3 linked regions of the Homo sapiens genome follow. The protein of the gene in region 1 interacts with the protein of each later gene in a biochemical or structural test. Each region holds a gene or a part of one and is shown on either strand. Other genes may lie near its edges.

Region 1 (3,651 bases):
ACCAGGGGGCCAGCCTCCCCAGGTTCCCTAGCAACAGTCCCGGGTGTTGGGGCGCCAGCCGGGCGGGAGGGAGCCAGGCCAGCTGGTGGTGCAGGCCAATTTTAGCTCCCACCCCCGGCCCCCAGGGGCTTTGTCACCCACTGCCCCAGCTGCCCCTCGCAGGGGTCCCTCAGCCATGCTGCCTTCAGCGTGGTGCCATCCCACCTCCAGCTGGCTGCCCTGGCGCCACCTGACAGGGCTTCTTCTCCAGGTCCTTATCTTGGTGGGGATCGGAGGCCTTATCTCCAGGATCTCCACCTGCCTCCCTGGTCTCTCCTGGGAAGAAGCCTGGGCCTGTGGGGAAGCCTGGCTCAGCACTCAGGAGGAATCAGCAGGCCGGGGTTCGCATCCCAGCACTCTGCTCCATCTGCCCTGTGACCTTGGGGGAGGGACTCCCCCTGCCTGAGCCTGGGTGTCCCCGTCTGAAGACTGCAGATCATAATTGGACCCACATTGGAGGCCAGGGTGAGGGCACGGCAGGCAGTGGCGGACGCGTGGTTAGAGCCCTGGCCGTGGTGGTTGGAACTGCCCAGCTGTGGGGAGGTTGTCTTTCTGCCCCTGTGAATGGACTGTGTGACCTTCACATGGCACCTTCCCTCTCCAAGGCTCAGTTTCTCTGCTGGAACATGGAGTCATTCCCTGGGCTACTGCAGGAATTAAGTGTAGGCGAGTTACCTGTTTACACAGGACTTGGTCCATAGCATGAGCTGCTTTGTAGAAATGGTTCATGACCCAGCGTGGTAGCTCACACCTATAATCCCAGAACTTTGGGAGACCCAGGCAGGAGGATGGCTTGAGCCTGGGAGCTGAAGACTAGCCCGGACAACATAGCAAGACTCCATCTCTACAAAAAAATTTAAAAATCAGCTGTGTGTGGTGGTGCACTCCTGTGGTCCCAGCTACTCAGGAGCCTGAGATGGGAGGATTTGCTTGAACCCAGGCAGTTGAGGCTCCAGTGAGCCTTGATTACACCACTGCACTTCAGCCTGGGTAACAGAGCAAGGCCCTGTCTCAAAAAAAAAAAAAAGGTTCAGGTGTGAGAGGCAGTGTGGTATTGTGACAGAGAAGAGCATCAAGTCTGGTGGAAACTATCGGGCACGGTGGCTCATGCCTGTAATCCCAGCACTTTGGGAGGCCGAGGTGGGCAGATCACCTGAGGTCAGGAGTTCAAGACCAGCCTGGCCAACATGGTGAAACCCCCTCTTTACTAAAAATACAAAAATTAGACGGTTGTGGTGGCGGGCGTCTGTAATCCCAGCCACTCGGGAGGCTGAGGCAGGAGAATTGCTTGAACCCAGGAGGTGGAGGTTGCAGTGAGTTGAGATCGTGCCATTGCACTCCAGCCTGGGCAACAAGAGTGAAACTCTGCCAAAAAAAAAAAAAAAAAAAAAAAATACTGGTGGAAACTGTTTGGGTTCAGATCGTGGGTCCGGGTCTCACTTTCCCCACCTGTAAAATGGAGATAATAGTGTGGTAATGGCCTCATATTGCATCAATGACCAGCATTAATTAAACGTTAGTTGTCGTTGCTATCAAGTGGCCCGGCAGTGTCTTTCTCAGAGACTTGGGCCCCCAGCCCATCAGCCTCTTGGCCTTTCTTCCTCCCCTCCTGTTGTCCTCCTGCTTCCCACTCCCAGCCGGAAGGGCACAGGCAGAACTGCCTTGGCGGGAGGCCTCAGGCACCCTGAGCCCCAGCCCTGAAAGGGAGACAGTCCCTGGGGCTTCCAATCAGGCCAGGGCAGCTCAGAGCAGGCAGGTGACCTGCGGGGGAGAGAGGCCAGGGAGGGACAGGACAGTAGGAACAGAACATCAGGAGGAGAGAAGCCATGGTGTGGGAGACAGCAAGTCAGGGCGCTTCTCAAGCCCTGGGTGTTTCAGGGGGTGGCAGAAGCAACAGTGTTTCCCATGGAAGGAGGATAACAGGGATTCAACCAGGTCTCAGGGCCAGTGAAAGACTTGGTTACCCTGCAGGGGGTGGTGGCTCAGGCCTGTAATGCCAGCACTTTGGGAGGCCGAGGTGGGTGGATCACCTGAGGTCAGGAGTTCAAGACCAACCTGGCCAACATGATGAAACCTCGTCTCTACTAAAAATACAAAATTAACCAGGTGTGGTGGCACATGCCTGTAATCCCAGCTACTCGGGAAAGCTGAGGCAGGAGAATCGCTTGAACCCAGGAGGCAGAGGTTGCAGTGAGCCAGACTGGGCCACTGCACTCCAGCTTGGGCAACAAGAGTGAAACTCTGTGTCAAAAAGAAAAAAAATAAGACTTGGTTACAATGTTTGGAGTCCAATCTGGGGTAACAGTGATTGGAATCAAATGTTAGGGGCATTCCACTGGGAATCAAATGTTGACATTTGGGTTTGAAGTAGAATTTGGGGGCTGGAGAGGGGACAGTTGATGGGTAAAATAGCAAGTCAGGACCAGTGGTGGTGGAGGAGGAGCCTCGAGTCCAGATTGAGGTCAGCGTTGATTGGGGTTGAGGGCAGCCTCATTTAGGGCAAAATATTGTAGAGTTGATCCAGGCTCCAGGACAGGCATATCCTGCTTTTTCGCACTTTGCCTTATTGAGCTTCACAGATACAGTGTTTTCTACAAATTGAAGGTTTCTGACGACCCTGTGTTGAGCAAGCCTGTAGGCTCCATTTTTCCAACAGCCTGTGCACAATTTGTGTCTCTGTCACATTTTGGTAATTCACACAGTATTTCAAACTTTTTCATCATTATTATAATAGCTGTTATGGTGATCTGATATCAGTGATGTTTTTCCTCTTTTTTTTTTAGAGACAGGGTCTTGCTCTGTTGCCCAGGCTGGAGTGCAGTGGCATGATCATAGCTCACTGCAGCCTTAACCTCCTGGGGCTCAAGCGATCTTCCCATCTCAGCCCCCTGAGTAGCTGGGACTATAGGCATATGCCACCATGCCTAGCTAATTTTTTTTTTTTAAGTTTTTCTAGAGATGGGTGTCTCGCTTCATTGCCCAGGCTGGTCTCAAACTCCCTGGCTTCAAGCGATCCTCCCGCCTTGTCAATGATTTTGTTTTATTGTGATTCACTGAAGGTTCAGATGATTGTTAGCATCTTTTAACAAGAAAGTATTATAAAATTAAAGTATGTACATTGTTTTTATAGCTGTAATGCTATTATTGCACACTCAGTAGACTGCAGTATGATGTAAACACAATTTTTCTTTCTCTTTTTTTTTTTTTTTTTTGAGATGGAGTCCCACTCTGTCACCCAGACTGTAGTGCAGTGGCGCGATCTCAGCTCACTGCAACCTCTGCCTCCCTGGTTCAAGTGATTCTCCTGCCTCAGCCTCCTGAGTAGCTGGGATTACAGGTGCGCGTCACCATGTCCGGCTAATTTTTGTATTTTTAGTAGAGACGGGGTTTCCCCGTGTTGGCCAGGCAAGTTTCACACTCTGACCTCAGGTGATCCACCTGCCTTGGCCTCCCAAAGTGCTGGGATTACAGGCGTGAGCCACCTCGCCTGGCCCATAATATTTTTTTTTTTTTTTTTTGAGACAGAGTCTCGCTCTGTCACCCAGGCTGGAGTGCAGCGGCGCGATCTCGGCTCACTGCAAGCTCCACCTCCTGGGTTCATGCCATTCTCCT
Region 2 (3,651 bases), on another chromosome or scaffold:
GTCCCTGGCTGCTTCCTCTTGTGGAATGGGTTCAAAAGTAAGCAGTGTTGTTTACACTGACAAACTGAAAAAAAAAGAAAAAGAGATAACATTGGAGGCTTGGCACAGTGGCTCATGCCTGTAATCCCAGCACTTTGGGAGGCTAAGGTGGGAGGATGTCCCCAGCCCAAGAGTTCTAGACCAGCCTGGGCAACATAGCAAGACCCCATCTCAAAAAAAAAATTTAATTGGCCAGGCAGAGGTGGGAGGATCACTTGAACCCAAAGGGTGGAGGCTGCAGTGAGCCGTGATGGCACCACTGCACTCCAGCCAGGGCAACAGAGGGAGACCCTGTCTCTAAAACAAACAAACAAACAAACAAACAAAAGAGTTAACATTGGCCAGATTAGGATTCACCAGATAGTGTTAATATTAGTTTGATTTGAGACTTTAATCAGAAAGCACATGTGTGGTGGGGGTGGGTGTAACCTAAGTCAGGTAGAATCTTTCCAACTTGGGGGGGGCACACTCCTGATTGTAGCCATATGAGTCTGTCAGTGTGGTGGAAGAGGCCATGGGTTAATGGGCAGGTAAAAAAGCACCTTGCCTGGAATTGAGTAGAAAGTAAGGCCCTTCAGACCCCGTGACACACTTGGGGACATTTTCTTGAGTAACATCCTAAGATTCATGTACCTTGATGATCTCCATCAACTTACTCATGTGAAGCACCTTTAAACCAGTCGTCTCCAAATTCAGGGGCACAGTAACATCCAACAGGCTGGAGAAAGAACGTACTAGAACTTCCATTCCTTTTTCATGTCCTCTTCTAAAAGCTTTGTCAGGGCCAGGCGCGGTGGCTCACGCCTGTAATCCCAGCACTTTGGGAGGCCGAGACGGGTGGATCACGAGGTCAGGAGATCGAGACCATCCTGGCTAACACAGTGAAACCCCATCTCTACTAAAAATACAAAAAAACGAGCCGGGCGTGGTGGTGGGCGCCTGTAGTCCCAGCTACTCGGGAGGCTGAGGCAGGAGAATGGCGTGAACCCAGGAGGCAGAGCTTGCAGTGAGCCGAGATTGCACCACTGCAGTCCAGCCTGGGCGACAGAGCGAGACTCCGTCTCAAAAAAGAAAAAGAAAAAGAAAAAGAACTGTGATTGGGGAGGACGGTCACTTTCCTGTTCTTACTGATCAGAAGGGATATTAAGGGTACCTGATTCAAACAGCCTGGAGATCACTGCTTTCAACCATTACCTGCCTTATTTATTTTTAGTTACTGTCCTTTTTTCAGTTTGTTTCCCTCCTCCATGTGCTGACTTTTATTTTGATTTTATTTATGTTTATGTTTAAGACATCCACACGTTCCTCTGCTAAAACCTTGAAAAATAGGCCTTGCCTTAGCCCCAAACACCCCACTCCTGGTAGCTCAGACCCTCTGATCCAACCCTCCAGCCCTGCTGTGTGCCCAGAGCCACCTTCCTCTCCTAAATACGTCTCTTCTGTCACTTCCCGAACTGGCAGTTCTGGAGCAAAGGAGATGAAACTCAAGGTAAGGAAACCACCTTTGAAAAGAACCAGGCTGCTCTGCTGTGGTTTGCAAATGTGGGGTTTGTTTATTTGTTTTTTAGCCTCAAAGACCTTTCTTCAAATGAGTTCTGGCATAGAAGCACCGTGTAAAATAGTTAGAATTCTGGGCAAAGGGGAAAAGAGAGCTGGGGGCCATCCCTCTCAGCACCCCACAGGCTCTCATAGCAGCAGCTCCTAAGACACCTGGTGGGACCTTGGTTTCGAAATCGCTACTCTAAGGCTGGGCACGGTGGCTCACACCTGTAATCCCAGCTCTTTAGGAGGCCGAGGAGGGTGGATCACCTGAGATCAGGAGTTCGAGACCAGCCTGGCTAACATGGCAAAACCCTGTCTCTACTAAAAATACAAAAATTAGCCGGGCGTGGTGGTATGCGTGGTGGTAATCGCAGCTACTCGGGAGGCTGAGGCACAAGGATTGCTTGAACCCCAGAGGCAGAGGTTGTAGTTAGCTCCAGCTTGGGCGACAGAGCAAGACCCTGTCGCAAAAATTGTTTAAAAAACAAACCCAAAATTGCTACTCTCATTGGGTTCCTTTGCCCATTCCTGATTTTGGCAAGAGAAATGCTTCCAGATTGCCCTGATCTGGGTAGGACAGCATCACGCCATAGCAACACTGCCCCGTGAGCTCACTGCCCCCTCAACTAGCTTGTGGTCCTTGGTTAATGTCAGTTTCTTTTTTGAGTTTGTGTTATGTCTAAGGGTCATCTGCTGGGTAACGGAACCCAGGGACTGCCCTAGTCCCTAGACTGTGCCATGCCCGACTCTGCCAGCTTTGTCAGTGATGCTGGTGCTCGCCTCCTCGGGTGCTCGCCTGGTCTGAGCACACCCAAGGAGTTCTTGAGGCCTTAGGGTTGTTTGCGAGAGAATGAAAGAACACGACCTAGCTCTCTTTAGCATCCTTGGTCAGGTTCAACACTGCCCCCAGGGGCCTCTGGTGGAGCCAACCACCATCAGCCAAATAAATCCATAATTAGAGTCAGAAAATGGATGTCTGCATATGTGTAGTGCACTAATGTCCTGCCGATGATTGACATGGAGTGGAGAGTGACCTGATCATTGCTGTGAGCTCTGCTGGCCTTGGCACAACTCATGCTGATAACTAATGCACACAGTTCCTCTGGGAGGAAATGTCCTCAGGGAACTTGGAGTTTGGGTGGGGATGTGGGTTTGTGTGCCCAGCAAGCCCTTGTGGTTGTAGCAGACACTAGTGGCATCTAGGAGGCAAAGGGTCACCCCAGTCTTAGCCACGTTTTGAGTCAAGGTGGCGGAGTGGGGCTGGTGTTGACTCTTGGTGGCAGTAACTTTTCCCAATGGTGAAAAACCCCTCTATCATGTTTCATTTACAGGGGGCTGATGGTAAAACGAAGATCGCCACACCGCGGGGAGCAGCCCCTCCAGGCCAGAAGGGCCAGGCCAACGCCACCAGGATTCCAGCAAAAACCCCGCCCGCTCCAAAGACACCACCCAGCTCTGGTAAGAAGAACGTTCTCTTGAATCTTAGAGGAAGCTGAAGCTCTCAGAGGTACAGCCTTCATTTTAGGAGGCCTTAGGCCACTGAGAATGAATAACCCCTGGCAGCTGGTCAGCAGCTTGCAGTTTACTAAGCACTGGAGTCTTCATTGCCTTCTCAGTCCTTTTGATTTCTGAGGCAAATGTTGAATCCCTACCTTTTTTTTTTTTTTTCTTTTGAGACAGAGTTTCGCTTTTGTTATCCAGGCCGGAGTGCAGTGGTGTGATCTCAGCTCACTGCATCCTCCACCTCCCAGGTTCAAGCGATTCTCCTACCTCAGCCTCCCTAGTAGCTGGGATTACAGGCACCTGCCACTATGCCCGGCTAATTTTTTGTATTTTTAGTAGAGACAGGGTTTCACCATGTTGGCCAGGCTGGTCTCGAACGCCTGACCTCAGGTGATCCACCTGCCTCGGCCTCCCAAAGTGCTGGGATTACAGGCATGAGCCACCACTCCCAGCCTGAATCCTCACTTTTTATCAATGAAGAAATTGAGGCTGATTCTGCAGCATGATAAAAAAAAATACAGAAAAAGGAAAAAAAAGAAAGAAATCGAGCCTCTGAGAGTTTGCTTG
Region 3 (3,651 bases), on another chromosome or scaffold:
CCATCAGTCTGTCTTAGTTTCTTCATGCATTTCAGAGTAAGTTATAGATAACATTAAACATCCCACTAAATACTTCAATAGGTTATACCAAGTTATATGTCTTTTGAATCAGTATTTGCATTATGATCTTTTATGATGAATGTTATATATATATATATATATATATATATATATATATATATATATTTTTTTTTTTTTTTTTTTTTTTTTTTGAGACAGAGTGTCACTCTGTTGCCAAGCTGGAGTGCAGTGGCGTGATCTTGGCTCACTGCAACCTCTGCTTTCCAAGTTCAAGCAATTCTCTGCCTCAGCCTCCTGTGTAGCTGGGACTACAGGCGCGCACCACCACACTCAGCTAATTTTTGTATATTTAGTAGAGACGGGGTTTCACCGTGTTCACCAGGATGGTCTCAGTCTTTTGACCTCGTTATCCGCCTGCCTCAGCGTCCCAAAGTGCTGGGATTACAGGCATGAGCCACCGCACCTGGCCAAATGGTGTATATTTTTTAAATGGCAGTCGAAAGGCAAAGCGTTATGGTTAGGTTCCTAGAAAAAAACAGAAGCCCAAGGATTAAACCCCGGACTGTAGCCGTGTTGTTTCCTGTGCTGCTGAATAGCCTCACACAATGTGTGTTCACATGAATTCCAGGGCATCTTCCTTAGTACCAAGTTCATTTTTTATTCTTTTCTTATTACATATTAACAGCACAAACAGTGTGATTCTTTATAAATCATAAGATTGCACAGTTACTTGAGTTGGTTCATTGAGCCTCTATATTTATTAAGAGATTTTTCTTTAACTCGGGCTGGGTATAAACAATGGCCTCCTCATAGCTACTTAAACATTTCACACTTAGTGCCGGACACAGGGGTGTGCAACTGTAATCCCAGCACTTTGGGAAGCTGAGGCAGGTGGATCACTTGAGGTCAGGAGTTTGAGACCAGCCTGGCCAACATGGTGATACTCTGTCTCTACAAAAAATACAAAAATTAGCCAGGCGTGGTGGTGCGCGCCTGTAGTCCCAGCTACTTGGGAGGCTGAGGTAGGAGGATCACTTGAGTCAAGGAGGTCGAGGCTGCAGTGAGCCACAGTCGCCCCACTGCACTCCAACCTAAGGGACAGAGCGAGACCCTGTCTCAAAAAAAAAAAAATTAAATTAAAAAATAAAAATAAAACATTTAACACGAAGTCACATAGGCATATGAGGAATGTGCTAAGTGCTCCTGGATATCCAGAGAAGTTAGGTTTTATCTGAAAACTTCTGTATTCATTCCTTTAACTGGATGATAAAATCTGTACCTCCACTGCTTCCACATAAACATAGATTCTAAACTTTTAAGTAGGCACCAATTGATTAATTGATTGATGCATTTTTACTCTTGCCCTTACCTGTCATCCATCTCTTTTTGTAATACACACACATACACACATACATTTTTGTTTATATATGTGTGTAAGTAAAGGATGTCCATCTGACCTCTCATCTTTTACCCAATTATTCAGACCCTCTACATACTGTTTTTTGCAATTTCAGGTGTGTTATAGATACAAATTTTAAATATGTAATTTTTCCCATCTAGGATAGTGAATATTACAATTCCCTAAGATGGATTCTTGAAAATGACCCAACAGAATTGGACCTCAGGTTTATCATAGATGAAGAACTTTTTGGACAGGTTTGTGAATTTTGATCAGTTAAAATGGCACATAAATTGTGAGACAAATGTTTAGATGTTAATACGTACACTTAATACATTCCTAGGCTCTGTTTTTACATTCATTTCCCAGTAACAAAAGCTGTCTCTGAGCAAGAATTTGTACTTTCTTTAACATTTGACTCGTTCCATATTTATTTTAGTAAAACTAGTATTTTAAGTTTTCTTAGTTTTTAACTTTTGACTGGACTTAATTTAAAACACCAAGTTTCTCGTATAACTACAATATGTATACTTTTTAAATTTTTCTCGCTAAAATAACATATCAAGTTATTGTGTTTAATTTTAGACACATCAACATGAGCTGAAAAATGGTGGATCAGAAATAGTTGTCACCAATAAGAACAAAAAGGAATATATTTAGTAAGTATTTTATTAGTATGTATTTTATTGGATATAATTTTGTACTTTATTCCAGAAAGACTCTTCTTACCATCTTTCTCTGTCCCCTTGTCCAGAATCTCAGTGTTCTTTTTCTCTATCACAATGCAGTAGCAAGCACTCATATTCAGCTTTTACCTTGGTCTCAGCTAGCCTTTAGTTTTTGTTTCTAACTAGAATAATTGTGCCTCAGAATTTTGTCTTGGTTCACATGAAAATGAAATGTTGTTTCTTTTTAGTCTTGTAATACAATGGCGATTTGTAAACCGAATCCAGAAGCAAATGGCTGCTTTTAAAGAGGTATTCATTTTCTTTTATTTGCTCTTCCATAATGTCACAGTATAACCTATAAGTTTCAAATATTAGGCCTCATCACATCTGAGAAAAATAAGTATATGGCTTGTTTTGTGAAATCATTCTAAATTATATTTTTATATTAACTAAATATTCCATTCAGTCATTCAAGAAGTCTAGACAATAAACATGGACAGGTCCCCTTTCCCCCAAGCCTTTTCCCTATTCCATTCTCTTCACTTTAGGACAGCAAAAGAACAAGAGTGCTTTAGGGATAGTATAACATATTGTTTGTTTTTCTAAATAGGATCACCTTACACATTTTGTTTTGTGACTTACTTTCTTCTTTTTTTTTTTTTTTTGAGCGCGGAGTGAGTCACTTTGTCGCCCAGGCTGGAATGCAGTGGCGTGATCTCGGCTCACTGCAACCTGCACCTCCCAGGTTCAAGCAATTCTCCTGCCTCAGCCTCCTGAGTAGCTGGGATTACAGGTGCCCGCCACCACGCCTGGCTAATTTTTGTATTTTTAGTAGAGACATGGTTTCACCATGTTGGTCGGGCTGGTCTCAAACTCCAGACCTCAAGTGATCCATCCACCTTGGCCTCCCAAAGTGCTGGGGTTACCAGTGTGAGCCACCGTGCTCGGCCTACTTTCTTCTTTTATCAGATATTTATTAGGGATATTTACATGTGACGACATATAGCTGCCTTTCTTTGTGGCTATATTTTATTCAGAATATAAATTAAAAAGTTACTTAAATTTTTCCAATTGGTAGACAGATTGTCAGAGCACTCATTTCTTAAGCTAACTTACAATCTTCTGTTAAATATGTATCTGGCTGGGCATGGTGGCTGACGCCTAAAATCCCAACACTTGAGGAGGCTGAGGCGGGAGGATTGCTTGAGCCCAGGAGTTCGAGACCAACGTGGACAACATAGGGAGACCTTATCTCTATAAAAAATTAAAAATTTGGGCGCGGTGGCTCATTCCTGTGATCCCAGCACTTTGGGAGTCCGAGGTGGGCAGATTGCCTGAGGTCAGGAGTTTGAGACTAGTCTGGCTAATGTGGTGAAACCCTGTCTCTACTAAAAATACAAAAAAATTAGCCGGACGTGGTGGCGTGCACGTGCAGTCCCAGCTACTCGGGAGGCTGAGGCAGGGGAATTGCTTGAACCTGAGAGGCAGAGGTTGCAGTGAGCCAAGATTACGCCACTGCACTCCATCCTGGGCAACAGAGCGAGACTCCGTCTCAAAAAAAAA

The links.
Region 2: of the proteins of MARK4 (region 1) and MAPT, one has a biochemical effect on the other in vitro, tested with the Homo sapiens proteins (2 studies listed by BioGRID).
Region 3: of the proteins of MARK4 (region 1) and NEDD4, one has a biochemical effect on the other in vitro, tested with the Homo sapiens proteins (one large-scale study listed by BioGRID).

What each region holds. Positions count from the first base shown.
Region 1 is NC_000019.10:45,254,151-45,257,801, forward strand, and holds part of MARK4 (MAP/microtubule affinity-regulating kinase 4), read left to right. Parts: intron 1-3,651. UniProt on the Homo sapiens protein: Serine/threonine-protein kinase. Phosphorylates the microtubule-associated protein MAPT/TAU. Also phosphorylates the microtubule-associated proteins MAP2 and MAP4.
Region 2 is NC_000017.11:45,988,548-45,992,198, forward strand, and holds part of MAPT (microtubule-associated protein tau), read left to right. Parts: intron 1-1,330; coding exon 1,331-1,528; intron 1,529-2,912; coding exon 2,913-3,039; intron 3,040-3,651. UniProt on the Homo sapiens protein: Promotes microtubule assembly and stability, and might be involved in the establishment and maintenance of neuronal polarity.
Region 3 is NC_000015.10:55,836,535-55,840,185, reverse strand, and holds part of NEDD4 (E3 ubiquitin-protein ligase NEDD4), read left to right. Parts: intron 1-1,581; coding exon 1,582-1,677; intron 1,678-2,005; coding exon 2,006-2,079; intron 2,080-2,336; coding exon 2,337-2,397; intron 2,398-3,651. UniProt on the Homo sapiens protein: E3 ubiquitin-protein ligase which accepts ubiquitin from an E2 ubiquitin-conjugating enzyme in the form of a thioester and then directly transfers the ubiquitin to targeted substrates. Specifically ubiquitinates 'Lys-63' in target proteins.